Homo sapiens: one gene and its partners. The protein of the gene in region 3 purifies or fractionates together with the protein of the main gene of each other region. This does not show direct contact. Each region holds a gene or a part of one and is shown on either strand. Other genes may lie near its edges.

Region 1 (4,132 bases), on a different chromosome or scaffold from region 3:
AAAAACCTGCCACAGAAACAAGTATGAACACAGCTTCACATTCACTCTGTGAGCAAACTATGGTTAATTCAGAGAATACCTACTCCTCTGGCAGTAGCTTCCCAGTTCCAAAATCTTTGCAAGAAGCCAATGCAGAGAAAGTAACTCAGGAAATAGTCACTGAAAGATCTGTGTCTTCTAGGCAGGCGCAAAAGGTAGCTACACCTCTTCCTGACCCAATGGCTTCTAGAAATGTGATAGCAACAGAAACTTCCTATGTCACAGGGTCCACTATGCCACCAACCACTGTGATCCTGGGTCCTAGCCAGCCACAGAGCCTTATTGTGACAGAGAGGGTGTATGCTCCAGCTTCTACCTTGGTAGATCAGCCTTATGCTAATGAAGGTACAGTTGTGGTCACTGAAAGAGTAATACAGCCTCATGGGGGTGGATCGAATCCTCTGGAAGGCACTCAGCATCTTCAAGATGTACCTTACGTCATGGTGAGGGAAAGAGAGAGCTTCCTTGCCCCCAGCTCAGGTGTGCAGCCTACTCTGGCCATGCCTAATATAGCAGTAGGACAGAATGTGACAGTGACAGAAAGAGTTCTAGCACCTGCTTCCACTCTGCAATCCAGTTACCAGATTCCCACTGAAAATTCTATGACGGCTAGGAACACCACGGTGTCTGGAGCTGGAGTCCCTGGCCCTCTGCCAGATTTTGGTTTAGAGGAATCTGGTCATTCTAATTCTACCATAACCACATCTTCCACCAGAGTTACCAAGCATAGCACTGTACAGCATTCTTACTCCTAAACAGCAGTCAGCCACAAACTGACCCAGAGTTTAATTAGCAGTGACTAATTTCATGTTTCCAATGTACCTGATTTTTCATGAGCCTTACAGACACACAGAGACACATACACATTGATCTTAAAATTTTTCTCAGTCACTGATATGCAAAGGACCACACTGTCTCTGCTTCCAGGAGTATTTTAGAAATGTTCCACAATTTACTGAAGACATAGAGATGATGCTGCTGCTTAGGTGCCTTTTAGCAAGCTATGCAAACAATCCTGATAAAACAAGATACATAGAGAGTCAATCTGGCTTCTGAGAATTTACCAAGTGAACAGAGTACCTAGTTCATCAGCCGTCCAGTAAAGCAACCCAGGAAACTGACTGGGTCTCTTTGCCTACCGTATTAACATTAAACATTGATGTTCTGTATTCTGTACTTTACTGCACCCAGCAGACTTTCAACAACTCATTGATCCAAAGATACATGCACAGTCTGAGCACCAGCTATGGTGCTCATAACTTCTTTAAGACTTGAACCCTTTCAATCTGTGTGATTCATTAAATTGGACCATTGATGATAAGAATACACATTGTATGTTTCTGTGCACATGACAGTGTGTGTGTGTGCACGTACATACTGTATAGTCTTAAAAATAGCATTATACTGGCCAGGGGTGGTGGCTAACGCCTGTAATCCCAGCACTTTGGGAGGCCGAGGCGGGTGGATCAACTGTGGTCAGGAGTTTGAGATCAGCCAGGCCAACCTGGTGAAACCCCGTCTCTACTAAAAATACAAAAATTAGCTGGGCGTGATGGTGGGCGCCTGTAATCCCAGCTACTTGGGAGGCTGAGGCAGGAGAATCACTTGAACCCGGGAGGCGGAGGTTGCAGTGAGCCGAGATCGCACCATTGCACTCCAGTCTGGGCAACAGAGTGAGATTCCGTCTCAAAAAAAAAAAGAAAAGGAAAAAAAAATAGCATTATACCTCTTCCTTGTCTCAACCGCCATGAAAATTCTGAACACTCCAAATTCAGTTGAATAATCCAAAACAAAATTTATAAGTATAAAATAATTTTACTTCTTATAGTAATAGTATACTTTAAAAAGCCTCAGGGTATATTATCTTCTAAACAGCTACAATTCAGTGCAGCTACATTAACCAACTATGTTCTCTAGTTGAGAACAACTAGGCCTATTTCACTGCTGTGTAGCCTCAGTGCCTAACATGGGTGCCAAATAAATATTCGTAGAATTACACTGAATTGTAAAAACCATTCGTTTTTGTTTACAATTGCCAAAAATCTCAAAAGGCCCTGTATTTATGTAATTCTTTGAAATTATTATTTTATTTTGATTTCTCAGTTATTGACTGGCTGGGTGTGACTTAGTACATAAGTACTCAATATTATAAAAACCTCAAATAATTGACTTGATTTTACACAACATCCTTCCCTTTTCTACAAGTTAATTTTTTTACAAATCATTTGGGTTATCTCCTAAATAGGTTATATTTTATTGCTTCTAGAAACAATGTTTCAAAATATATGTGCATTATCAGTAATAATTTGTATAAATATTTCCCACAACAATTTTCATAATTTTCAAAGACTAATTTCTTGACTGAAGATATTTTGCTAGGGAAGTGAAACTTTAAAATTTTGTAGATTTTAAAAAATATTGTTGAATGGTGTCATGCAAAGGATTTATATAGTGTGCTCCCACTAACTGTACAGATCAGGACACATATTTTTAGACATCTAAGTCTGTAGCTTAAATGGAGGTTACTCTTCCATCATCTAGAATTGTTTACTTAGTAATTGTTGTTTCTTTTATTATTATAGACTTACTATCAGTTTTATTTTGCCAAGTATGCAACAGGTATATCACTAGTATATGAAAATGTAAATATCACTTGTGTACTCAAACAAAAGTTGGTCTTAAGCTTCCACCTTGAGCAGCCTTGGAAACCTAACCTGCCTCTTTTAGCATAATCACATTTTCTAAATGATTTTCTTTGTTCCTGAAAAAGTGATTTGTATTAGTTTTACATTTGTTTTTTGGAAGATTATATTTGTATATGTATCATCATAAAATATTTAAATAAAAAGTATCTTTAGAGTGACCCTTTCCCCATAGATTTTTATTTCTCTATTATATTTTACAAGGAATATAACTCAGTTTGTTAGGGAGAGTGCCTTAAAGGCAGGTGTTTCTTGGACTTTGTTATTTAATTAGATCTGCTTGCAATAAAAAAAGTTGTCGGTTATCTAAAATTCAAATTTATCGGGGTACTTGGCATTTTCATTGTCCAACTCTGGCAACCTTGTTCCTAAGGAAGTGAAGGTTGCTCTCTGCCCAGAGTAACACTGGAGAAATCTGTTGGGTCTGGCAGAAGAAGGCTAGTATATCTAACCCAAAGAGATGAAATCATTCTACCAATGTTTGAGAGGCTGTTTTAATTGCTTGTTATAGTTTAGAAGGGAAAAGATCAGAGTTGCTGCTATAAGAGAAGAAAAACAAATTTTCTTCTAGGTCCCCAGCTGGGGCTCTGTAACAAAACACAGATTAACAAGAGAAAAACAAACATTAGTCTGTTAACATGTGTATCTCATGCATGCTTTGGAGTAACTGGAATGAGCAGCTCAAAGGGGTGGTTAGAACTTGGGTGTAAAATGTTAAAAGAAGAGCTTTAAACAAATTAAATCTAACAGTTTACTTAAGCAAAGAAAGGTTCACAAAATTGGGCTGCCCTGGAACTAGAAAAGGTTCGGAGAACTCTATTCTACAATAATGAGCAGGCCGTATTCATAGACAGAAAATGGAAGTGAGGTAGGGAAGCTGCTTGATTGGTTACAGCTGAGCCTTTGCCTTATTTGGAGGTGGGCTGATCAGTTGGCAGCCAGTGACTGGCTGAAACTCAGCTGCTGTGATTGATTGACGCTCAGCTATGTATTACAAAAATATACTCCTAAATTAGGCTTTCAGTTCATTTATGTACCAAGCTAGGCTGCAGTTCGTCATGTGGGGACTCAAGGTATGGAGGCAGCCTCAGGCCCAGTTTAATTTAATAATATACCAACTTGGGCTAAAACATAGGAAAGGGGATTAGGGGCTTCTGGGCAGGGGAAACAAGTTATGGGAAGGTGACCAGGAAAAGTCTGGTAAGCTTGAGTAAGATTTGTCATGCAGATTTAAATTAATCTCTTTGTCACTTATAGTCATCCCGTGTTTCCGGTACGGAGGGAGACAGCCTTACAAATGGACATTTCCCTTATAAATGTAAATCCCTTTACAAAAGGTAAACTTACGTTCTGTCTTCAGAGTTTCTCCTGCGTCTGCTATTTCTCAAAAT
Region 2 (4,466 bases), on a different chromosome or scaffold from region 3:
TTAAATAGCATGCTTTATCCTGTCTGACTTTCTTCATTTTAATGATACCAATCTGTCTTTTGATTTTTAAATTAAAAGATAAATAAATGAAACTTTTATTAGTTTAGTGGCCTGGGCACTATTTCTGTTTTAGAATTCATACACAAGTTAGAACATACCGGATTTAAACTATTAAGTGGTATTACATTTGAGTTCTTTTTTTGTTTTGTTTTTTGTTTTTTTTCTGCTGCCCCAATATTTGCAGGAACTAGGGATGAGAAACTGGGGGTATTCCTTTAAAATCAAGTATTCCTTAATCTCTTTTTCTTTGTTTCAGTAGCTTTATAGCTTTGAAGAACATGGGCAAGGCCTCTAAGGGATGGTGCCCTGAGGCTTTTCAATTGATTATGAATTGTTCTTAGAATGAAGTAGACTGGGATATAGGCTGAAAATCTGGGAATCACCCTTGACACTTTCCCCTGTAACCCCTAATATCTAATCAACCAGAAAAACACACTGGTTCGATTCTAGCAGTTGCTCCTTTCTGCAAACCTAATTTTGGCTTTTGCCTTCTCTTAGCCTAATGGACCTCTGTCTTTAATTTTATCATTCACACCAGAGCTTCAGTAATTTATTCACGGTACACATTTCGTCATGTTAATCCCCTGCTTCAATAGCTTTCCATTGCCGAAGAATTCAGTCTTAGCATTCTAACATGGCATCTTTATGTCCTTCATGATATAGGCCCATATTTCTTAGCACTCACTCTCCACAGAAAGCTTTATGATTTGTGATGGCAGGTTGTAATACCTCCCACAATTTCTACTCTTGCTCCTCCTATTCCTTCTGTTTGCAGTATTCTTGTCACTTTTCATTGCTTAGATAACTTTTACTAACCTTCTAAGACTGAATTCAGGTTTCACTTCTTACAGTAAGTCTTACTTGATTCCTCGTTTAACTGGTCCCATCTTCTGTGCCCCTACTAACATTTTGTTTTCAAATCTGGAACTTACCATATTATATTAAATCTTTTTTCTGATTCTTTTTCCCATTAGACTGTTCCTTTAAGCAAAGACCATGTCTTCTTCATCATTGTATCTGCAGTGTCTAGCAAGTGATAGGTGTGTAGTGGAGGCTCAGTGAATATTTGTTGAACTAAGTGAGTTCAACTCATTGTGGTAACATTGAAGTGTTAGTGAAGCTCATGGGTCAGTGCTTCCTAGACACCAGTCAGCTGTTTTCAGACTCTTGCAGAGCATTTTACAACATTTTATTGTTTTTTGAGTTTTATGAAGAATTATGATTCAGTAGATGTAGAATGGGGTCTGGGAATATGTATTTTTAAAAAGCTCCCCAGGTGTTTTTGGTTTTCTTACAGGCTAGAGAACCGTTGTCCTAGTTTATTATTATACCATTGTATTTTACGTAAAAGGTACCCCCTAGACTTTATACAGCAATTTATTATTTCATCCTTGGAAGTTATATCTACCAAAGTATGGATGTATTTTTAGTCACTTTTTTGGTACCATATTTATATAGAAGTATTTTAAGTCCTTAAGTGTCTCATTGAGAGATCTGTTGGCATATTGTTAACACTCAACTAAAAAAAGCCTCATTTAAACAGGAGTCTTCTTCAGTTGATCATAATGAGATTTGTTGGGCTTCATTCTATGAATTTTAGTATTTTTGGCAATTTGTAATTAGTTTTCACTTTTTATTGTCATTTTTCAAAATACTTAAAAAATGTTTTATTGTAGTTTAAAATTAAACTAGAGTGCACAAATCTGAAGTATACAGCTCAGTGAATGTTTACATATGTAGATACACATAAAGTACCACCCAGGTCAAGATATGGAACGTTTCCCAACCCCTCGTTCTCTCATGTTCCTTTTCAGTTAATATACACCCCTGCAACCACAAGGTAACCACTGTTTTGACTTGTGTGACCCATCAGTCTTCTGATTAAAGCTACTAAAAATTTTTGTACATAATCTTTTGGTGGACACGTGTATTCATTTCTTTTGGGTTTACACAGGAAGTTGCTGGGTTAAGGACAAACTTGTGTTTTAAATTCAGTAGATGATTCCAGTTTATACCTGTGATAGCAGTTCATAGTGAAACATTGAAATTATTTGAAGCTTATGATAAAATTTGAATATCCTGAAACTTCTGTTTGTTTTCCCAAGTATTTATTGTAAAAATATATATACAAAGAAATATCAATAAATATATCAACTACAGAAAGAAAATGTCAAATATGCAAAGAAAACTCAATGTCATTTTATAAAAGTTGCCAGAAATACAGGTTTTAGTCAAATTTTTCTATGTAAGTAATTATTTTCTTTGTTCCTTCTCCTTAGGATCATCCTTCCTTGTGGGTTAGCAGGCAGTTATAAGATTGCAAAATGGGTCTCCGGATTCACTTTGTTGTTGACCCACATGGTTGGTGCTGCATGGGTTTGATTGTCTTTGTTTGGTTATACAATATTGTTTTAATTCCCAAAATTGTCCTCTTTCCTCACTATGAAGAAGGACATATTCCAGGCATATTAATAATAAGTAAGTTTCTTGATCTTTATTTTCTTGTATAATTATTTTTCTCATTGTAAACGTTTTTGGGGTGTAGTGCCACTATGATAACTTTCCTTTTAATATATTTAGTATTTTAGCAGTGCTGTCAATATTCAGTTATTTACTAATTTATGAACTTATGGAAATAATGGCCTTTATAGATTTGCAGTTAGATAAAAGTGATATCTCCATTTTTAACTGCAAAGTGCATGAAGACCATTTTGTTAAAAATAGAAAACTGACACAGTAGTGATAACTTGCATGTCTCTCTGTATTTTTATTATTGCTGTTTTGTACCTAATTACAAATGTAGATGTTTTAAGAATAGAGACAGTATACATTACTGAGAAGTGAGAATTTCATAAGAAAAGTATTGATTACGAAGTTGATTATGATAACACTTGGAACTTCTGGATAGTTATTAGTCAATTGGTGATGGCTTGCTTATGATTAAAATAAATTGAAATTATATATTTTACATGTACATGGCATTTACAGTTTTCATGCACATTACCTCATTTTGACCTCACACGAACCATGGGAAATTTTATATATATATGATAAAACTGACCGGTACTATGCAGTCAGTCCTGGATTGAGCACTCAGACTATTCCCTTTACATGTACAGTATGTTTTTTTTTTTTATCGCCCCAACAGAATTTCTCTATTCTTACTAATTTAAAAATGTAGAATTATGGTGGCCAAATCTGTTTTCCCTTACTATTTTTGTTTTCTGGTTATTAATTTTAAAATTAAAAAGTTTCTAAGTCTTAATTATCAAACTAATCATTTTAAGATCCATCAAAAGGGACAGTTGAACATCACTAATTCAGAGTAATATTGAAGATACCCAGTTAGTTAATGAAAAAGTTTAGTTGTAGAATTTAAAATGGTATTTTGATCCTTTCAAATATAGAACATGCAGTAATTAAACGGGAGCCTATTCATTTATGCCATTATTAATAGGAAGTCCCTGTTATTAAGGGATCTGATTTATAAGAACTTTGAGTTACTATCATGTAAAATAATAATTAAAATTAGTAATGATTAAAATTAGGACTATTTAAGATAGTCCTCCTGACAGTGTTATTTGGTGAGTGAAATCAATTATTTATTTTTTAATCTTTTGAAATTTTTTCTCCTGATGGTGTTTGTTAAAATATACATTTTAAACTTTAAATATGATTGTTGATAAAATGTTTTGAAGGGTAAGTGACTAATTTATTTAATTTATTTATTTTAAAGTATTCTATGGCATTTCCATATTCTGTCTGGTTGCCTTAGTGAGGGCCTCCATAACTGATCCAGGAAGACTCCCTGAGAACCCCAAGATCCCACATGGAGGTATGGTACTCTGGATTTATCAGTTTTGCTGATGCCAGAATTACTGTCTTTATTTACATATTTTATTGCCTTTAATATATATTGGTTATAAATGTCATCTAACACCACTTTGATGTCTTTGCTTGTATGTGTCTTTTCCAAACTTCTCTACTTAAAATTGCAACCCTGCTCCCCCTGCACCCCGGCAGTTTCACCACACCCCATCTCTTGGCTTCTGTATCACATATCATATGATCCTCATGGTAATTGTATGAGGTAGGTAGGCTGGGTGGTCAGGAGCATAGATTGTCCTTCCTGGGTTAAACATCTGGTTGTTGGTGTGCGATCCAGCCCAAAGACCCAGAACCTTGTCTCTGTCATCTTATTACCATGGATCTATGTACAGAGATAATTTTAGCTTTTTATTCACCTTTGTTACGAATCTGGGGAAAACTTAAGTCATAATGTACTTTTTGGTGCTGGTTACCTGATTCTTTTGTAAATATGATTTTAATTTAGTAAAAAAAAATACAAAATTTTAACAGTGAAAGATAATATTGAATGCCTAGAGAGTTGAAACTGTAGAATAGTG
Region 3 (4,466 bases):
TTACTTGAGGTCAGGAGTTTGAGACCAGCCTGGCCAACATGGTGAAACCCCGTCTCTACTAAAAATACAAAAATTAGCTGGGAGTGGTGGTGCACCCCTGTAGTCCCAGCTACTCGGGAGGCTAAGGCAGGAGAATCACTTCAACCTGGGAGGCGGAGGTTGCAGTGAGCTGAGATCACACCACAGCACTCCAGCCTGGGTGACAGAGCCAGACTGTGTCTCAAAACAAACAAACAAACAACAACAACAACAAAAAACTGGGCTCTGGTGGTTGGGAGGAGGAGGGAAGGAAGCAAGTACCAGGGTAAGCAGGATGGATGGATGGCTCTCCCCCAGAGGGGCGGCAGCACACAGAGTTCTGGAGTCAGACTCAGTAGAGGGCCAGTTTTGACTCCACTGCCAACCACCTGGCTGACTCCAGGCAGGTTACATCACTGATGAAAGCCTCAGTTTCCTTGTCTATAAATTGGGGGTACAAGCGATGAAAAGAGGCTCAACATCACTAATCACTAGGGAAATGCAAATGAAAATCATAAGGAGGTACCACTTTGTACCCTTAAAAATAGTTACTACAAAAAGAAAAAAAAAACACCCAGAAATCCACTTTGGGAGGCCGAGGCAGGAGGATTGCTAGGGGGCAGGAGTTCAAGACAGCACTGGGCAACATAGTAAGACCCCATCTCTACAAAAAATAAATAAAAAATTAGCCAGGCATGAGGGCATGTGACTGTAGTTCCAGCTTCTCAGGAGGCTGGGGCAGGAGGATCACTTGAGCCCAAGAGTTTGAGGTTGCAGTGAGCTATGACCATATCTCTGCACTCCAGCCTGGGTGACAGGGCAAGACCCCACCTCTAAAAAAGTGTTGTTGTTGTTTTTAAACACAGAAAATAACAAGTGTTAGTGAGGATGTAGAGAAATTGAAACCCTTGTTCATTCCTAGTGGGAGTGTAAAATGGTGCAGCCACTATGGAAAATAATGTGGTGGTCCCTAAAAAAATTAAAAATAGAATCACCATATGATCCAGCAATACTAATTCTGGATATATGTCTAAAATAATTGAAACAGGGTTTCAAAGAGATATTTGTACACCATGTCTATGGTAGCATTATTCACAATAGTCAAAAGGTGAAAGCAACCCAAGTGTCCTTCCACAGACAAATGGATAAACATAATGTGGTATATGCGTACAATGGACGATTATTCAGCTTTAAAAAGGAAGGACATGCTACAACGTGGATAAACCTTGAGGAGACTACGCTTAGTGAAATAAGCCAGTCACAAGACAAATTATTTTCTGATTTCACTACAGGAGTAGTCACACTCACAGAAGCAGAAAGTAAATGGTGGTTGCCAGGGACTGGAAGAAGGAAGGAGTAGGGAGTCGTTGTTTCATGGGTATAGAGTTTCAGTTTTGTAAGATGAAAGTAGTGTTGGAGATTGATTGCACAACAGTGTGAACGCTTCTGAACTGTACACTTAAAAATGGCTAAGATGGTAAACTGTATATTATGTGTACTTTATCTCAGTTTTCAAAATGGGGATAATAAGAGAAGCCACCTTATCTGAGTTGTTGGGAGGACTCAGTGAGATAATGCCCCATGCCCCATCCGGTGGTGGCCAGCACAGAGTGTGGCACCAGCAAAGAGTGTGGCACCAGCAAATGGGCTTCCTAGGTGGTGGTGAGGAGTGGTAAAGGCAGAAGCTCAGCACCTTCTTTGCCTTCTCCACTGGCTGGGGACAGTGGGCATGGTGGGAGCTGTTCTAAAGTCCAGGTTGTGGCCTGTGTAATAGGTGATGGGACTTGCTGGAGGCTGAGCCCCTCTCCCCACAGTGGCAGTTCCAAGCCTCAGAGAATAGAACACAAGTCCAAACCCATACTGACTTGGCCAGTGCCAGTGTACAGGGCCAAGCCCAGGGCCCCTGAGAAGGTTCTCTGCATCCCAGTTGGCACAACACAGGTAGTGGGACTGTCCTCAGATTGTGTCTTTGCCTTATACTGCCGTGCCAGGATCTCCCAATGGGCATATCTTTGGGGACAGACAAGTCTGCCTGAACTGCCCCCCAACACCTCTTCACAGGAGGACAGGGTTAGCCAGGAACCAAGGATGGCATGCTGTGCTGTAGAAATGCCTTTCATAGTATGCCAGGAGGTAGCAATAAGGTGTCTGAGTTGGGGTTTGCGTGAGTGCATTCGTCTGTGTGTGTACATGTGTATAAGGTAGTTTCCTTCTTCAGGGGTTGATTGTGAGGTCCAAGTTTTTCAACCTGTGCAGTTACTAAGAGTCAAATTATTTTTCGTTTTATTTTATTTTATTTTATTTTATTTTATTTTATTTTTTTGAGATGGAGTTTCTTTCTTCGTTCTTGTTGCCCAGGGTGGAGGAGTGCAATGGTGCCATCTCGGCTCACTGCAACCTCTGCCTCCTTGGTTCAAGCGATTCTCCTGCCTCAGCCTCCCGAGTAGCTGGGATTACAGGGGCCTGCTACCATGCCCGGCTAGTTTTTTGTTTGTTTGTTTGTTTGTTTTTTGTATTTTTAGTAGAGACAGGGTTTCACCATGTTGGCCAGGCTGGTCTCGAACTCCTGACCTAAGGTGATCCACCTGCCTCGGCCTCCCAAAGTGTTGGGATTACAGGCGTGAGCCACCGCGCCTGGCGATTATTTTTTAACTTTATTTTGAAATAACTTTTGATTTAGAGAGAAGTTTGAAAATAGTACAGAGATTTCACATATACCCTTCATCTAGCTTTCTCTGATGTTAACAATTTAAATACGCGTTATGCATTTATCCAAACCAGGAAATTAACATTGGTTACAATAGTAATAACTGAACTACAGACTTTGTTTGGATTTCACCAGTTTTTCTACTACTGCCCTTTTTCTATCGTAGGATCCCATCCAAAATCCCATGTTGTATTTAGTTGTCATGTCTCAGTCTCCAATCTGTGATTGTTCCTTAGTCTTTCCTTATCTTTCATGATCTTGACATTTTTATGAGTATTTTGATGAATGCTCCTCAGTTTGGGTTGGCATGATTTTTCTCACAATTAGATTGCGTTATGCACTTTTTGGTAATGATACCTTAGAAGTGATGCATTCTCTGGGCATCATACCAGTGGGTACATGATGCTGATGTGTCTTATTACTGGTGATGTTAACCTTGATCATTTGTCAAGTTGGTGTCTGTGGAATTTCTCTGCTGTAAAGGTACTATTTTTTCCTCTGTCACTAATAAATATCTTAAGGGAGGTTCTTCGAGATTATACAAAATCCTGTGTCTCCTCAAATTTTTATTCACTGATTTTAGCATTCATCACTAGGTCTTGACTGAAACAATTATTACTGCAGTTTGCCTAGTGATGATTTTGCATTTTCTGATTCCTTCAACATTTATTAATTGGAATTCTTCTGAGAAGAAGAGCTTCCCCTCCACATCTATTTATTAATGTATGCAATTGTTAACTTATATCAGTACAGGTTCATACATACTTATTTTATTTCATCAGTTATAAACTAATGCTATCCATCTTTATTTTGTTGCTCCAGTTATTCTAGCTCAAACCAAGTTATTTTTCACTTTAAGGATAGAGAATGTAGATATCCAGGGTAAGGGCCTTTATCTGTCTCTGCAGTCAGGGCTAGAGGAGTCTGTGTTTACCCCTGCGGGAGGAGTGCCAGTCACAGCTCGTTGCTAAGTTTTCCATCAGGCAGCAGTTGAGCAGGAACGCAAGCAGGGACTGGTGGGACCTGGGTTGGGACTGAAGCTTCTGTTGGGGAAGGAAGTGCCCCAAGCAACCCAGAGTGTCTGATGCTGGGGTCCTCATCCCTGAGACCTACTGCAGGGGTCAGATCTCAGTCTCCATGGGCATGGCCCTTCATATATAGCCCTCAGGGCCAAGACCTCAGAGAGAAGAGGCCCTGCGTGTGAGGAAACCCGGCAGCCTCCTGCCCTGAGGCTAAAGGAGCAGGAAGGGCAACAAATGCTCTGCTCTGGAGAGGGCCTAAGTTCATCTGCAGGGCCACAGGGCAAGCAGCAGAGGCAATCCTGGCTCGTGGCCAGGGGCTAAGCATGGGCTGGCCTTTGCCTCAAGCATGTCCTCTTCTCCCATGGAGCATCATTAGGGTCTTGACCTTCCCATCAGTCCATGGGCTGGGAAAACTGAGGCAGTCACCTCTAAGCTGGATACCACTTCTGCCAGGTCTTGTGCTCCAGAGGCCCTGGGGGAACCTTGTGTGTTAAGGACCAGCCTTCTTTGCAGGCCACCAGTGATCTAAGACAGGGCTGCTGCCACACCGTAGATCCTCCTGTCCTCTTCTGCAGCTGGGCTGCCTCCTCTAGGAACCCTAGTGGAGCTGCTGGTAGCCCACTGGTAGTGGAGTTGATGGAGCCTCCAGCAAAGGGCCTGGACCTCTGGTGGCACTAGCCTTGTGCTTTCCTGGGAACTGGGGTCAGGGCCTGAACAGC
Region 4 (4,466 bases), on a different chromosome or scaffold from region 3:
TCAACATATAAAAGTCAACTGTGTTTACAAGTATTAGCAATGAACAACTGGAAGTTGAGATTTTAAAATACTATTTACAATAGCATCAAAAATTAAAATAATTCAAGCTGGGTGCTGTAGCTCAGATCTGTAATTCCAGCACTCTGAGAGGCTGAGGTGGTCAAATCACATGAGCTCAGGATTTTGAGACCAGCCTGGGCAACACAGGAAAACCTCGTCTCAACAAAAAATACAAAAATTAGCTGGGCATGGCGGCATGCACCTGTAGTCCCAGCTACTCGGGAGGCTGAGGTGGGAGGATGATTTCAGCCCACGAGGTAGAGGCTGCAATGAGCCAAAACGGCATCATTGCACTCCATCCTGGGCGACGGAGACTCCATCTCCCAAAACAAACAAACAAACAAACAAACAAACAACGCCAGGCCTGATGGCTCAAACCTGTAATCCTAGCACTTTGGGGGGCTGAGGCGAGCGGATCACTTGAGGTCATGAGTTCAAGACCAGCCTGGCCAACATGGTGAAACCCCATCTCTACCAAAAAAATACAAAAATTAGGCCTGGCGCGGTGGCTCATGCCTGTAATCCCAGCGCTTTGGGAAGCTGAGGTGGGTGGATCATGAGGTCAGGATATCGAGACCATTCTGGCTAACACAGTGAAACCCCATCTCTACTAAAAAATACAAAAAATTAGCCGGGCATAGTGGTGGGCGCCTGTAGTCCCAGCTACTCGGGAGGCTGAGGCAGGAGAATGGTGTGAACCCAGGAGGCGGAGCTTGCAGTGAGCGGAGATCGTGCCACTGCACTCCAGCCTGTGTGACAGAGCGAGACTCCATTTCAAAAAAAAAAAAAAAAAATTAGCTGGGCGTGGTGGTGCACGTCTGTAATCCCAGCTACTCAGGAGGCTGAGGCAGGAGAATTGCTTAAACCCAGGAGGCAGAGGTTGCAGTAAGCCAAGATTGTGCCACTGCACTCCAGCCTGGGTGACACAGTGAGACTCTGTCTCCCAGAAAAATAAAATAAAATAAAATAAATAATTAATTCAGTATAAATTTAATAAAATATGTGCAAGACCTGTACGTAAAGCAATAAAATACTGCTGATAAAATGAACAAGACCTAAATTGCCCATTGACTAGAAGACTTAATATTGTTAAGACATCACTTATCCCTAAATTTTTTGTTTTCTTTAAGATGGAAGCTTACTCTGTTGCCCAGGCTGGAGTGCAGTGGCACGATCTTGGTTCATTGCAACCTCAGCCTCGCGGGTTCAAGTGATTCTCCTGTCTCAGCCTCCTGAGTAGCTGGGATTACAGGTACCCACTACCACACCTGGCTAATTTTTGTATTTTTAGTAGAGACAGGGTTTCCCATGTTGCCCAGGCTGGTCTCGAACACCTGACCTTAAGTGATCCACCCGCCTCGGCCTCCCAAAGTGCTGGAATTACAGGTGTGAGCCACCATGCCTGGCCCCTAAATTGATGGGAATCTGATTCAATGTGGATGTGAAATAGATTCCCATTGTGAATCTATGTGAAACAGATTCAATGTGATCCCAATTAAAATCCAAGCAGGGATTTTAATAGAAATTGTCAGGTTCATTCCAAAGTTTATATGTAAAAGCAAAGGACCTAGAATAGCTAAAACAATTTTTTACAGGTTGGAGATCTTGGCTGGGCACGGTGGCTCATGCCTGTAATCCCAGCACTTTGGGAGGCTGAGGCGGGTGGATCATGAGGTCGGGAGATCCAGACCATCCTGGCTAACACGGTGAAACCCCGTCTCTACTAAAAATACAAAAAATTAGCAGGGCATGGTGGCAGGCACCTGTAGTCCCAGCTATTTAGGAGGCTGAGGCAGGAGAATGGCGTGAACCCGGGAGGTGGAGCTGGCAGCGAGCCAGATTGAGCCACCACACCCTAGCCTGGGTGACAGAGTGAGACTCTGTCTCAAAAAAAAAAAAAAAAAAAAAAAGTTGGAGATCTTATGCTATGTAATTTAAAGACACTGTGGTATTGGCATAAGGGTGGACATATTAATGAGGGTAACAGAGTACAGTCCAGACATAGATCCCATAGATACAGTCAATTGATTTTTTTTTCTTGAGGCAAGGTCTCTCTCTGTTGCCCAGGTTGGAGTGCAGTGGCCAGATCTTGGCTCACTGCCGCCTGGACATCCTGGGCTCAAGTGATCTGCCCACCTCAGCCTCCTGAGTAGCTGGGACTACATGTGTGTGTCATCACATCTGGCAATTCTTAAAATTTTTTTGTAGAGACAAAGTCTCCCTGTACTGCCTAGGCTGGTTTCAAAATCCTGGGCTCAAGCGATCCGCCTGCCTTGGCTTCCCAATGTGCTGGAATTATAGGTGCGAGCCACCACCCACATTGAGTGTCAAAAATCACTCAATGGATTTTTGACAACATTATTAAGGTAATTCAACGGAGGTACAATAATTTTTTAATAAATGGTGCTGGAGCAACTGGATGCACATATGTAAAAATACTAATCTTCATCCTTACTTCATATGACACAAAAATGAACTCAAAACAGATCACAGAATGTAAGAAGAACTATAAAAGCTTCTAAAAGAAAGCATAGAAGATAATCTTAGGGTGCAAAAAGGATACATTGTAAAATTTAAAAATTGCTAAATTGTGAATTCATCAAAATTTAAAACTCTCTGAAAGACATTATTCAGAAAATAAAAAGATAAGCCACACTGTGAGAAAAAACATTTGCAAACCTTAAAAAAAATTGTTTTAAATCCTTGCACAGGGCCATACTAACTTCTCTGTATTACAATTTTAGTATATATGTTTCTGAAGCAAGCACCACAAAACTTTTATCTGATAAAGGACTTACACTCAAAACAGGTGAATTTTACTATATATAAACGATAGCTCAATAAAGTCGATTTTAAAATTTTAATGTGGCTAGGTGTAGCGGCTCATGCCTGTAATTTTAACACTTTGGGAGGCCAAGGTGGGCAGATCACTTCACCTCAGGAATTTGAGACTAGCCCGGGCAACATGGCAAAACCCTGTCTCTACTAACAATATAAAAATTAGCTGGGCATGGTGGCCCATGCCTGTAGTCTCAGCTACTAGGGAGGCTGGAGTGGGAGGATTGCTTAAGCCTGGGAGATGGAGGTTGCTGTGAGCGCACCACTGCACTCCAGTCTGGGTGACAGAGTGAGACCCTGTCTCAAAACAAACCAAAAACTTTTAAAGTAGCCAGGCGTGGTGGCTCATGCCTGTAATCCCAGCACTTCGGGAGGCTGAGGCAGGTGGATCACGAGGTCAGGAGATCGAGACTATCTTGGCCAACATGGTGAAACCCCGTCTCTACTAAAAACACAAAAAGTAGCTGGGCTTGGTGGCGCGTGCCTGTAATCCCAGCTGCTTGGGAGGCTGAGGCAAGAGAATCACTTGAACCCGGGTGGCGGAGGCTGCAGTGAGCTGAGATCGCGCCACTGCACTCCAGCCTGGCAACACAGCAAGACACCGTCTCAAAAACAAAACAAAAACCAAAAAAAACCCTTTAAAGTAAAAAGCCATTTTTCATGATTCTCTAAGGAGAATACATTGAAAAGCAACATAGACACTTGATTCTCTAGGATACATTCTATCTAAATTACTTAATTCATCTTACCGGCCCCATGGATCCCTTAGCCCTTTTGCAGCCAGCTTCTTCTGGATAGTTTCTAATGGTGTCCCTTCTATCTTCCATTGTCTATAATCTGGAAGTTCCATTTTATGATGTCCATGCTCATGTCCATGTTCATGGGCCATGTCTGTAAGGAAAAGATTAACACAAGTGAGAAATATGCAAATTGTAGATATCAAATACCCAAATTTATTGTTTATGTTTTAAGGTAAAGCATTTAATATTAAAAAAAAAAGCCAATATAAATACTTGAAAATTCCAGTTAAAGGATTTTATAAAAGTGTCTTATTCTACAACCATGTTCACAGTTAGGAAATACACATACACAAAATATAAAAAAGAAAAATAATTGGCAATCTCATCACTCAGAGATAACCATTTACTATCTGGTTCTTTTCTTCATTATAATAATAGTAAACATTTGCTAAAATGCTTTATGTGTATTAACTCCAATACCTCTAAAACAACTCTTTATAAATAGTAAACATATGCTAAAATGCTTTATGTGTATTAACTCCATTACCTCTAAAACAACTCTTTGAACTTAAATAATGAGTATCCCCATTTTACAGATGAGGACAATGAGACTCCAAGCAATTAAGTAACTTTCCAAAGGTAACAAAAATAGTAATGGTACAGCTGGGATTAGAACCTTGCAGTTTGGTTTTAGAACCCTGCTCCTAACTTCTTCTTCTTCTTATTTTTTGAGACGGCGTCTCGCTCTGTCGCTCAGGCTGGAGTGCAGTGGTGCAATCTTGGCTCACTGCAAGCTCCGCCTCCCGGGTTCACGCCATTCTCCTGCCT
Region 5 (4,466 bases), on a different chromosome or scaffold from region 3:
CTTGTTCCTGAAACATTTTACTCGTTGTCTGTGTTATCCTCTTCATCTGAAATACTCTATTATTTCCCATTTAAATCCTAATTTGTTTCTTCAAACTTCACCATCATCACAAAATATTTCCTTATTTCTCCTAAACCAAATTAGTTCCTTAATTTCTCCCTCTTCTGAATTCTCATAGCATTTCATTTATGTGGCTCTCATGACAATCTCCACATTCTATTCAGCATTGCATTTATATATCTCTGTGTATCTTCCACACTGAACTGCAACCTCCTTGGGACACTGTTTTATCCACTTATATATCCCTAGAACATGTATCACAGTACCCATGCAGTAGAAAACCAAACGCTTGATAAAAGATGAGAGCTGTCATATAAAAACAGCTTTTGTATCCCTTCCAGAAAGTATTTGTCAAGCCAACTGAGAAAAAAAACTCAGTTCCATTGCATTTTCCCTCCACTCTTTCTTTTATGCACCTTTTAGGTAAATAAATTTCCTTTGCTGCGGATTCAGTACTTTTCATATACCCTATATAACTGAACGGAAATTCAAGATAAAAGAACATAGACACAGTTTCACATCATAATTCTTAGGTGGCTAGTCTGCTTTCTTAAGCTATCAAGTGGTTTTCTTAACTAAACATACAAGTCTACTGATTTTGTTACTCTTACCTTCTAATTTAGCTAGAAGACTTGATTCCGTTTTATTCTTCAGGGTTATTGAATCAGTAATAATAAGTTCAGAACTCTTTTCATCTGACACCAGAGGTTCCTTGAAATGACTATTTTGAACAGACTACATGAAAAAGAAAATCAAATAAAGTCCCATAAATAGTAGTACTACTAATCTGTCTTACTGTTCAATATACTAAAGTCTTATCTATACATGGATTGCTCATAAAATTTTCTATTATAATTATATGTAGACTCACAAACCCCCAGCAAAGGTTAACTGCCTGAATTATTAATTAGAGAAATGGGAAGGGTCATAACCATAAATCTGGCCAATTTGCTTTCAGTGGATGTATTAATCAATTGCTAAAATATATTTCACTTAAAGATGGAAAGGGTTAGAAAGTTTGAATTCAACATAGAGTATGCCTCATGACAAGAAAAAAGATTTAAGTATTTTGTTACTGTGATGGCTATTTTATCACCAAAAATAAGTCAAAACTAGTAACTGCATAACTTAAGAGAGTAGTTACTCTAAATCCAGAGAACAATCTTTTTGACACAATTATGCACTGTTCTCTAGGACAGCCAGGATTAGGAAAAATTAATACTTAAAGCATAGGTCATGAAAGAGGGAGGCATTACAAAGAACATAAAATTGAAAAGACCCACATCATGATGCCAGGGGTTTAACTCAATTATAATAATAGTATAACCACTAAAAATCACAGTGTACCAGGAACTAAAATTATTTCCTTTAAGTCCACACAAAGTTGCTCTGCCATGTCAGGAGGTCAGGATTATTTATGTCCTCACCTCTGCCCTAACTCAATTTACTCTCTCATTTTTTTTTAAGATGTCTTACCAAAATCATATGATTAAACATAACAAAAAACAAAACTTGGGGGCAACAGTTCCCCCAGTCACGTATTCCCAAACCCAGGCCAACTATCTGCTTAAACACGTGCATAATAAATATTACTTCATGATTCTCTTAAAAGATTGTTGATCCTTGCTCTACCACCTTAATCTTGGAGAAACATAGTCTAGGACTTCTGCACCAACTTCCCACTCGTAGTCCCACAGCTCTTGGGGTATGTGGAACACTGTTGGAGATACATGAACTATTTATAAACCCTTTCCCCAGAAAAAGCTCCATGAATACTGATCCTCCCAGATCAGGAACCCTTGCTTTATATAATGATATAGAATTAAAATACCTTTAAATTTCTTAATTCACAGGAATCATTTCCACTTGGTTTAGATCCAGGCACAACCAAATCTCGGCATTCTGATCTAGAGGTTTGTCTTTTACCCGTGAAACAAAATAATTTTAACATTAAATTTGAAAAAAAAAATTTTCAATGTATTTTTTCATCTCAAGTTGGATTTTTAATAATATACATACTTTTTATTGAAAAAAATCTCTTAAAAAGACATTTTTTAGAGTGACATAATTCCAATACAAAAGTGACTTAGCTAACAAAATTACGTGCTGGGCAATGACAAAAGTGACACAGGTGATCGCCTACTTCTTCATTATCTAATCAGTAACAATTGGAGTTAGGGTTAGACTGTGGGAAAGGCAAAGTATACAGATGAAACTACATTTCCAATTACAAATAGCTAAAGGATAAGAACCAGGGTATAGCACTTCTGTGGACCTCCACAGTACCTAGCATTGTCTATCGATAACAGGAACCAAGAAAATGGCTGCAGTTTTTCTGTTTTTGTTTTTAATTTTTTGGAGCGGAAGAAAATCTCCTTTATTCTTGAGCTAGGTATTTGAAATAGAGATGAACAAGATGAAATCATAGTGATAAGACTTTAAAGCTTAACCTTGACAAACAAAATGTTCTTTTAATGTCAATATTTAGTCAAGTCTAAATATAATAGAAATGTAATTATAAAAGATAGTAATGAAAAACAATCGTATTTCTAAAGTTTATTTGCAAAATGATTCTCTGGACTGTAAGGAGCCTTTTCCAATATAAATATTACAAATGTTGGTCAGAATTAAGAATAGGCCAAAATAACTCTCCTTTAGCTGAGCTACAGGCTACATTCCCATTTCTTAACAGGGAATAAACAAGCAAATTGAGGGAAGGAGAACACACTGGATGTGATGAACAGTAATTCATCTGTACCTAACCTGTCCCACTTCTTGAAGCACTAGACTCAAGCAAAAGAATAATCATCTATCCCACTGACAGCGATTCTCCCCTTGAACTATCTGGAGCAAATATTTGTTCCCAGACCTCCTTCTACCCGTTATGGAGACTCTCAAACAAAACAGGAAGAGATTCTTAGCAGACAGCCTACCCGTAAGTGACAAATCCTCAAATATCAGTCTTTTAAGCTTAATGTTGACTTAATATTTTTTCCTTTTAAAGCTCCTTTAATGAATATTTTTAATGAGTGAAAAAGCAAAACAAAGTTATTTTCTCCACTCATTCCTTTGTTCCTGACAACATTTAGAGATTATCTTCTAAAACTGAATAAAAATTTAATCATAATTACTATTACTCAGTAAAAGACTTTAAGACCATTCTGCCATTAATCTTCCCATACGGACAACAAATTTTAAAAATTAAAACTCAACATACCTTTTCATAAAACAAGGTACAACTGAATCATCTGTCTTCACATCACAATCTGGGCTATTTAGAAGGTTAACTGGGACTCTTCCAAATGGGCATGACTAAAAATATTTTGAAAGATTAAATAACCAACTAGGAAATAAAGACTATCACCACCTTAATCAAGCAGATTGAAAGTAACTTACCTGTTTAGTTTTGTTAGTTTGTCTCAATGAATTCCGGTAACCTATTTCTGCATCTTGTGGTGGCATGTTCTCTCTAAACAGAAAGAAAATACCCCCAATTTTTCAAAGAACAATATTAATATGTATTTCTACTCTACTGCTAAACATTATCACACACATGAAAACATATATGCAGATACATGTAATTACATTAAAAAACACAGATGTACTTACATAGAAGATGAACATTTAAAAACTGTTTCCGTTTCCTTACCCATATAAAAACCTGGCTTTAGTAGTCTGTCCTCTGGAATCACAACTGTTGTTCCTATTCTGTAAATGCCCAAGTGAACCGGAAAATGATTCTTGGGCAGTTAATACCGTAGATGCTGTAAAAATTTTGAAACTATGATTAAATTTATAAGAAATAAGACAAGTACAAAAAAGTGATCTTACAAATAAGAATATTTTAAAAGTCAATTCATAGGAAATACTTGTCCCCAAGTAAGATATGCAGACATGAAGATGATACCAAGATAATTATCTAACTACTTCTTCAAATTCTCTTAAATTATATAACTATTTCCCCAGGGTAAAAGCACATTCTCTATTTCCAAAAGCAAAAAAAAAAAAATTCTCTTGCTTAGAGTTGTTTTTCATGTGTTAACGAAAGTTTAGTTAGCAAAAAAGACAAATTTGCATGGGGTTGTAGAGACTTTTTTACTTCTCAGTCTTACCTCCTTTACAATTTAATCTTAGATTTTAACCATTCTACATAAATAATATTTTTCTATAAATTATTATCCCGAATCTTTATTTGAAGTACTACCTACCACAGAAAGTATTAGTATACCTTAATAGTTACCTGATAAATTCTTCTTTTCCTCCTCTGAAAGCAGCTGCTTTTTTTGGAGGTTTAAATTCCGCAGGGCAATTTCCAGCATTTCTAGTGGTACTGCTCCACGTTCTACAGCTTTTTGAAGAAGTTGTTTACTTTTTTTGACATTACCTAACAAAGCAAAAGATAATTG
Region 6 (4,466 bases), on a different chromosome or scaffold from region 3:
AAAGTAAGACTGCTTGGATTCTACCATTTGCTAACTATGTAACCTTAAACTACTTACCCTCTTTGTGCACAAACAGCATTATTTCAATGAATTGTTTTAAAGATTAAAAAACATCATTCATGTAAAGTCTGCTCAATACCTAAGCAAGGAGTAAACTCTTGCTGAAGTTATTTTCAGATTAAAATCATGTTTAAAAAAATGAAGTGTTACTGTTCACTTTAAAGACAGTCCAAAAAACATGTGTAACTAACTGAGGACAAGAGATGGTCATTACACTCTCAGTACCCTTCACTGCAATAAGCAGGTAGCTGCATAAGGCAAATACTTTGGTTTACCAATTCTGGTATATGGGTTATTAACATTGTCATATTACTTACATCATCTTGCAGGCCATACAGCATAAACTAGAGACCTGCAACCATGTTCTTCTAGGCCTTCTGTGTTTTAAAAAATGTTTTAATTAGTTACCAATCTTTCAAAAGTGAGAGATTTTACATTACAAATCTAGACTTGTAGCTTTCCTTTAAAATCAGAAAACAATCAGATGATATGGGCAGTATTTTCATATGGCAAAGATCAGCTGGGGCTGAAGGTGGTTGTCCATTAGAAGGAGCATGCACCCTCCAGGTGAACAGTCCAACTGGCACTGAGGCCACACCTACATTTCCACTGATCATCACACCTGAACTTTGTCTTTTGTTAAAGAGGAACACGAAGCATTTCTTATGCCTAGTCAAATTTGCTGATTGTTATTTGTCCTGCCTGTATGGGCTGCTACAGTCACATATATCACATGTTCTAAAGTAGTAGAAACCTAAAAGTTAACCAATTTCCCCCAAGTGACCTAATAATAGGTTTAAGAATAGGGTCAAAATAGTGAACTTACTCATAAATAGCTTTAGCATCCTCAGCACTTTTGTCCTTAAAATCAAGAAGCTCCTGAAGACTCTGGATATACCTAAAATGCAGATCAATAGGATAAGTTTGTTCTTTTATATTCTGAAAGTTCAATATCATGAAAATTAGCTCAAAAGCTATTTTTAGCATTTTATAATTTTTAATTTAGAATACTGCTATAAATTATGGTTGAAGTATAATTTTTACACCCATGCACATTCAAGCAAAGTGCTGGGAATGAATGGTAGAAGGTGCACATTTTCTCCTAAAAGCAAAGGTCAAATTTAAGAATTTTAAGATTTTCCGAGTTCTACATTCTAAAATGGCTTTTAATTTTTTTTTAATTTACCACTGTACATTACAGTATATATACTGATTATGCTGAGATCTGTCACCAGTAACTATGTGATCTTGGGCAAATGACTTAATTTGTCTTATTATCAGTAAAAGGAGGACAGCCTCTCTTGCTCTAAGACTGTATCTTAAATATCTGTGCTTTAAAACCTTAATTTTACATATTTATGTCCAACTAACAAGTATTTATTGAAAGCCTATAATCTACATGGTTCTTTTAAACTGAACAAAAAACACAAAAGTCATAAAAATGTACATTTTAAATTTATCTAACAATTCGAAGTATCAAAGCATCTGTTAAGGAATGAGCAAAATAGAGAAGGCCAAATGATTTTCTGATGGTCTTGCAGGCAAGTACAATGGCACTGCGGGGCCAGAGCTAAAAATAACTTGCTACCACTGAATTACTTTCTTCGACAGTGTAAGGGATCTGCTCCACTTGGCTGTAAGCACTTTATCTGCAACTGTCCTAACTTAGCAGGCATCTAGGAGCAATGGAAGTGCTTTAAAAACCTGTAATTCCATCTGTTGGTTTGGAAAGCTGTTTCTGACAAGCAATATGTCTTACTGCATTCCAAAGTTAAGGGATTCTGATAGCAGCTGCTGCTTTGCTTTAACCCTTAATTTCCTCTTAATTGGCAAGAACAACTACGCTCTCCATCCAAGAGATATTTGAGTACCTACAACAGGCACCGATCAGACCTCATGACTGATAAGCTTCAAAAAGCAGCATATTCTACTTCTAATGAAGAATTTTTTAAAAACAGGAAAAATCTTCCATGGAATATTATATTTTCTCCATTATATCCCATCATAATTACTAAACAAATGCTTCCCATTTAATCCACACTTATAACTATTCCATACTTGGACTAGATAGCATCTGATTATCATATATATAGCAGTCATATTTTGCTTTTTTAAATTGCGATTAGATCAACTTCTCCCATACGCTATAATGCTTACAAAAAGAAAACTTGAATCTCCATGAATCATAACTGGGAAATGCCCTGCAGCTAAACCTTTTCCATTTAAGACTTAACTCTGGGCAACTCATTTGTTTGAAGCATACAGTGCTTAAAAGAACAACACTTTTAAATCAGTAACATTAATGAAGGCTGTATATAGGTGGCTCCATGAGTGTATACCCTTAACATCTCTACTTATCTTTGGGAAGAGATCACACTTTTTCTACACAATTCCAAAAACTTCTAATTGTTTTAAAACAGAAAAATAAACATTTTAACTTTTGTAATTTATAAAAAGATACCCTTCAATAAACACAGTTTATTAAAAATACATATATCCTTTCATATATTTCATCATTCTGACTATAGCACGGTATAGCAGAGATGGACAAATGGGGGTTTGAATCCCAACTCCACTATCAATGGTACTGTCTTACGCAAAAGATTTAACCTTTATGTGCCTCAGCATCCTCATCTGTACAGAGTTAACCTGCCAGGTGCGGTGGCTCATGTCTGTAATACCAACACTTTGTGAAGCCAAGGTGAGAGGACTGCTTGAGCCCAGGAGTTCACAACCTGCCTGGGCAAAAAAGTGAGACCCCCATCTCTACAAAAAAATAAAAGAATTGGTCAGGTATGGTGGCGCATGGCTGTGGTCCCAGCTGCTCGGGAGGCAGCTGCCTTAGCAGGAGAATCTCTTGACCCCAGGAGGTCAAGACTGCAGTGAGCCATGATCACACTACTGCACTCTAGCCTGGGTGATGGAGACCCTGTCTCTAAAAAGAAAATAAATTAATTTAAAAAATAATAAACAGGCTAGACACAATGGCTCATGCCCATAATCCCTGCACTTTGAGAGGCCCAGGTGGGCAAATACCTTGACCTCCGGAGTTTGAGGCCAGCGTAGGCAACATGGAAAAACCCCATCTCTGCTAAAAAATACAAAAATTAGCTGGGTGTGGCATGCACTTGTGGTCCCAGCTACTCAGGAGGCCGAGGTGGGAGGATCACCTGAGCCAGGGAGGTGGAGGTTGCAGTGAGCTGAGCTGTGATCACCACTGCACTCCAACCTGGGTGACAGAGTAAGAACCTGTCTCAAAAAAATAAGTAGGCCAGGAGTGGTGGCTCATGCCTGTAATCCCAGCACTTTGGGAAGCCAAGGTGGGAGGATCACCTGAGGTCAGGAGCTTGAGACCAGCCTGGCCAACATGGTGAAACCTCTATTTCTACTAAAAATACAAAAATTAGCCAGGCATGGTGGCAGGTGCCTGTAATCCCAGCTACTCTGGAGGCTGAGGCAGGAGAATCACTTGAACCCAGGAGGCAGAGGTTGCAGTGAGCCAAGATCATGCCATTGCACTCCAGCCTGGGCAACAGAGCAAGATTCCATTTCAAAAACAAAAAGTAAATAAAAATAATAACAATGAATAAAATGGAGAGAATCATACCCACTGTGCAAGGTTGTTGAAGGGATTAAAGGCAATATACATAAATACCCAGTCATCAACAAATTGCAGACATTTTTTCTTATAATATCCTTGAAGATATACTAACATAAATCCTAAATTTAGCATCTGTATTTCAGTGCAGTTTTGACTGGCTTTCTCAAAATCAAGAAGTTGTGGAGTCCACGATTCAGGGCACAAGCCCAAATACATTGCCCCCACCTGCCCCCAGCCAAAAAAAGAATACTGCTACTACCTTAAGACTCTGGTCGGGCACGGTGGCTCACGTCTGTAATCCCAGCACTTTGGGAGGCCAAGGTGGGTGGATCACGAGTTCAGGAGACCGAGATCATCCTGGCCAACATGGTGAAACCCTGTCTCTACTAAAAATACAAAAATTAGCTGGGCGTGGTGGCACGTGCCTGTAATCCCAGTTACTCGGGAGGCTGAGGCAGGAGAATCGCCTGAACCCGGGAGGCGGAGCTTGCAGTGAGGCAAGATCGCGCCACTGCACTCCAGCCTGGGCGACAGAGCAAGACTCCGTCTCAAACAAAACAAAACAAAACAAAAAAGATTCCACCAAAGAGTAAAAAAAAGCATTTGCTGTAACCTTGAATAAAGTCCACAACTCCATCAAATTGCAAACACAAGATGAGAATCTTACCAGCTTTGTACCAATTGAACGGATGGTGTCCTGAGAAGATTATCTGGAAGGAGACTTATTTCTTTCATTATATTTGCCAGTCTGACAGGCAACTCTTGCCGCAGAAACATAAATGAGGTCTTTTCACAAGCATTCACT
Region 7 (3,296 bases), on a different chromosome or scaffold from region 3:
GACCAAGCAGCAACAGCATGAAGAAGAACAGGGCAGCCCAGAGTGGGGCCACTGGCATCAGCGTGACAGCCCGCGGGTAGGCGATGAAGGCCAGGCCCGGCCCTGTGGGAAAGGTGCAGGCTCTAGACCTTGTAGCCGATGTCCTGCCCTGTGCGCACCCTGAGCCCTGCCTGCAACACTCGCGCCCATGCCCACGCCTGCCTCAGAGGCGCTGTCAACCCTGGGTCGTGCGGCAGGGGCTGGGAGGTCCTTTCTCTGTCAACATTGACAAATCCCAGGACCTGCCCCCACAGGCCCACAATCTGACAAGTTCCGTTTGAATCCTCGTCACTTTTCAGCATTTCTATTGCATGTTCCTGTACATCATGCATCTGGGTAGCACTCGCTGCTCTGGAGGCGGGGCTGGGGGTAGGGCCCTACCTGACTCTGCCACCTTGGAGATGTGCACGCCCTGCTCTGCAGCCATGAAGCCCAGGATGGAGAAGACCACGAAGCCAGCAAAGAAGCTGGTCCCACTGTTGATGAGAGCCAGGATGATGGCGTCCCTGAGGGGTGGAGGGGCCAGAGTGGATGGGTTAGGCTGCTGGGCAGGGCGGGGCAGGGCAGGACAGGGCACGGGTGGCAGGGCGGCGGTGCTTACTTGTAGCAGTTGTTGTTGAAGCGGTTGTAGCTGCCCAGGGCTGTGAGGGCCCCCAGGCCAATGGCGTAAGAAAAGAAAATCTGGGTCCCCGCATCTATCCACACCTAGAGAAGGGCCGGAGAGCGCAGGCATGAGGGGCCTGCAGGGCTCCCCCGCAGCGCCCTGCTGCAGCCTCTCCACCTCCACCTCACCTGAGGGGACCCCAGCTTTGACCAGTCAGGCTTGAGATAGTAAATGATGCCATCCAGGGCGCCAGGCAGCAGCACTCCACGCACCAGCAGCACGACCAGGACCACGTAGGGGAATGTAGCAGTGAAGTACACGATCTGGGGGGCCAGGCTGCTCAGCGGAGGCTGTGGCACCACCTCCCTCACACCCCCACTCCCAGCGCCTCCGGTCCCCCTTGCGGGCAGGTATGTTCAGAGGTCCCCATTGTCCTCCGAGCCATGGCTCCCGCCAGAGGAAGCTAGGGGCAAGGCTGCGCCCCGGCAGCCCTGGCCAAGTGCAGTGGGGAAGCTCCCTGGGCGCCTCGTTTGTCTGCAGGGACGCGTGTCGGTGGGGAGCAGGCGAGCCTCTGGGAGCTCTCCTCAGTGGGGACAGGAGGCGTGGAGCACGTGGGGAGTGAGAGCTGTATGAGTGTGTGGGCAGTGCAGGTGTGGGAGGCCCAGGCAGGGAGCGGGATATTGGATCCGGGTCGGGTCCCCCTCCTCTTCTGGAGAGAGGTGGGGGTTGAGCAGGTGGAGAGTGGAACTGGGCCAGGCAGAGGCAGGCGAGATGCAGCTGCCACACTGTCTGCCCCCTCTTCCCACATGCTGCTCTGGGGACCTTGTCCCCCAGGGAGCTGGCCATGTCCCACAGCTCTAGACACTGTCTTCTTTGTTCAGGTGACTCCCCAGCCTGACCAGGAGCCCCCAAGGGATGTGGCCAGACTCTGCTCTGGGTCCCCAAGGCAAGATAGGTAACAGATGGCCAGACCAGGTCCACCAGACTGTCACAAGAGTCAGAGACTGGCAGGAGGGCACCAGTGGGGGTGATGGGCACAGGGAAGGGACAGTGCCTGCCAGGGCCTCTATCCCCAGGAGCAAAGGCTGCTGGGCCCTGGATTTGCAGGGTGGGGAGCATTGCTTGGCTTTCAGTACCTCCCCCTTCCTTAGGGCTAGACTCTGTCTGGTCACCTCCCGTTGCCACAGGTGTGCCTGGCACAGACATCCGGCTCCCAGGGCTGAGCCACCCTCCCCGCTGCATGCCTCTAGTGGTACCTTTCCCGTGGATTTGACCCCCTTCCAGACACAGAAGTAGACCAGCACCCAGCAGGCCAGCAGACAAAGGGTCACCTCCCAGTTGAGGGCCCCTGGCACCTCCAGTCCCCCAGACAGCCTCAAGACTTTGTTCCTAGGGGAGGGAGGGAGGTCCCATGAGGCCTGTGCCAGCAGAGGATGGAGCCACAGGGTCCACCCCCAGGAGTTGTGGCTCCCTTCTCTCCCACAGCCCAGGGTTCAGCGGGTCCCTCTTGTCCAATTGGGCTGGGCCTGGAGCCCACGATCCCCTGGCCATTGGGAGGCCACTCCCATCCCACCTCACATGCAGCCCCAGCTCCCCCATCAGGGGGGAGTGACCAGGACAGTGATCGGCTGCCGAACCCAGGAGCGAGGCTGGCCCCAGGACTCTCCGAGGACAGGCAAGGGCAGGCAGGGTCCAGGATGGACTGCCAGGCAACACCCTGGTGCCCCCTCAGGGCCACTCCCCTGGAGCCGGGCAACATGAGGGAGACCTGGGGGATGGGATGGGCTTGGCCCAGAGGTGCCGGACTCACTCCCAGAACTCGATGACAGGGGACCGGCGGTCAGCAAGCTGGTCACAGGTGAGGTTGGCCAGGCTGGCATTGGCACAGTCTTCATGGCGGAAGATCTCCACGCAGTCGGGAGTGTTCCAGGTGTGGCCACATGTGGCCCAGGGCAGCGTGGTGGTAAAGGACTTGACCAGGTAATAGAAGCCCCAGGCCAGCACCATGATGTAGTAGGTGTTGCAGTAGAAGACGATCACCATGGAGGCGTAGCCCAGGCCTGGGGCCGGGAAGTCCTTGCCATGTAGATTCTTCCCTGGCCACCTCCCCCTGCCACCCCTTTATGTCCCCACCCAGGCTGGCCGTGCTCCCACCATCTGTCCTCCTGGAGCCTTGTTTGTGGTGCTCCTGACTCCCCTGGGCTCCCCCTTGTGTGAGCCCCAACACTGCGCTGACTCCCCAGCCTGTCTCCTCTCCTCCAGCCGCCCCCTAGACCCAAGGCAGAGCGAGCCCCTCTCCTCCTGTCCCCATCTGACCAAGTGCTGTGGAGTCTCCAGCCTCATACACCTGGCCCCTTCTGTGGGTCCCACTGCCACCATGGCGGTTCCAGGAGGTCCAAGCCTCTGCCTGGCCACCCAGTAGCCTCCAGTCCTCAGCAGCTGGTGTTGATGGTGGTGGTGGGGGGGGGGGGTTTCTAGTCGCCTGAGGTAGTGTTGGAGACAGTCGCCCCTGCAGTGGGCAACCTCAGTACGTCGCTCCACCTGTCTGTGCCCCAGCGTCCTTGGGGATAGTAACAGTAGGACCTACCTAGAGAGCCAAGGGTGCTGCTGGGCAGGTCCCGTCCCCAGCCCGGCTATGCCTGGCCTGTCCTTG

The links.
Region 1: the proteins of SLC22A4 (region 3) and DSG2 purify together in Homo sapiens (affinity purification with mass spectrometry; one large-scale study listed by BioGRID and IntAct). This does not show direct contact.
Region 2: the proteins of SLC22A4 (region 3) and ZDHHC21 purify together in Homo sapiens (affinity purification with mass spectrometry; one large-scale study listed by BioGRID and IntAct). This does not show direct contact.
Region 4: the proteins of SLC22A4 (region 3) and NDUFB3 purify together in Homo sapiens (affinity purification with mass spectrometry; one large-scale study listed by BioGRID and IntAct). This does not show direct contact.
Region 5: the proteins of SLC22A4 (region 3) and TTK purify together in Homo sapiens (affinity purification with mass spectrometry; one large-scale study listed by BioGRID and IntAct). This does not show direct contact.
Region 6: the proteins of SLC22A4 (region 3) and PDK1 purify together in Homo sapiens (affinity purification with mass spectrometry; one large-scale study listed by BioGRID and IntAct). This does not show direct contact.
Region 7: the proteins of SLC22A4 (region 3) and SLC6A8 purify together in Homo sapiens (affinity purification with mass spectrometry; one large-scale study listed by BioGRID and IntAct). This does not show direct contact.

What each region holds. Positions count from the first base shown.
Region 1 is NC_000018.10:31,545,950-31,550,081, forward strand, and holds the end of DSG2 (desmoglein-2 preproprotein), read left to right. Parts: coding exon 1-794; 3' UTR 795-3,059; downstream 3,060-4,132.
Region 2 is NC_000009.12:14,672,259-14,676,724, reverse strand, and holds part of ZDHHC21 (palmitoyltransferase ZDHHC21), read left to right. Parts: intron 1-2,339; 5' UTR 2,340-2,384; coding exon 2,385-2,538; intron 2,539-3,796; coding exon 3,797-3,895; intron 3,896-4,466. UniProt on the Homo sapiens protein: Palmitoyltransferase that catalyzes the addition of palmitate onto various protein substrates. Palmitoylates sex steroid hormone receptors, including ESR1, PGR and AR, thereby regulating their targeting to the plasma membrane.
Region 3 is NC_000005.10:132,297,096-132,301,561, forward strand, and holds part of SLC22A4 (solute carrier family 22 member 4), read left to right. Parts: intron 1-4,466.
Region 4 is NC_000002.12:201,078,204-201,082,669, reverse strand, and holds part of NDUFB3 (NADH dehydrogenase [ubiquinone] 1 beta subcomplex subunit 3), read right to left. Parts: intron 3,790-4,466; 5' UTR 3,788-3,789; coding exon 3,648-3,787; intron 1-3,647. UniProt on the Homo sapiens protein: Accessory subunit of the mitochondrial membrane respiratory chain NADH dehydrogenase (Complex I), that is believed not to be involved in catalysis. Complex I functions in the transfer of electrons from NADH to the respiratory chain.
Region 5 is NC_000006.12:80,010,792-80,015,257, reverse strand, and holds part of TTK (dual specificity protein kinase TTK), read right to left. Parts: intron 4,445-4,466; coding exon 4,301-4,444; intron 3,825-4,300; coding exon 3,710-3,824; intron 3,530-3,709; coding exon 3,457-3,529; intron 3,373-3,456; coding exon 3,278-3,372; intron 1,980-3,277; coding exon 1,892-1,979; intron 796-1,891; coding exon 672-795; intron 1-671.
Region 6 is NC_000002.12:172,558,712-172,563,177, reverse strand, and holds part of PDK1 ([Pyruvate dehydrogenase (acetyl-transferring)] kinase isozyme 1, mitochondrial isoform 2 precursor), read right to left. Parts: coding exon 4,329-4,466; intron 959-4,328; coding exon 887-958; intron 438-886; coding exon of another isoform or gene 378-437; intron 1-377. UniProt on the Homo sapiens protein: Kinase that plays a key role in regulation of glucose and fatty acid metabolism and homeostasis via phosphorylation of the pyruvate dehydrogenase subunits PDHA1 and PDHA2.
Region 7 is NC_000023.11:153,690,711-153,694,006, reverse strand, and holds part of SLC6A8 (sodium- and chloride-dependent creatine transporter 1), read right to left. Parts: intron 2,704-3,296; coding exon 2,454-2,703; intron 2,033-2,453; coding exon 1,900-2,032; intron 967-1,899; coding exon 832-966; intron 745-831; coding exon 641-744; intron 546-640; coding exon 421-545; intron 103-420; coding exon 1-102. UniProt on the Homo sapiens protein: Creatine:sodium symporter which mediates the uptake of creatine. Plays an important role in supplying creatine to the brain via the blood-brain barrier.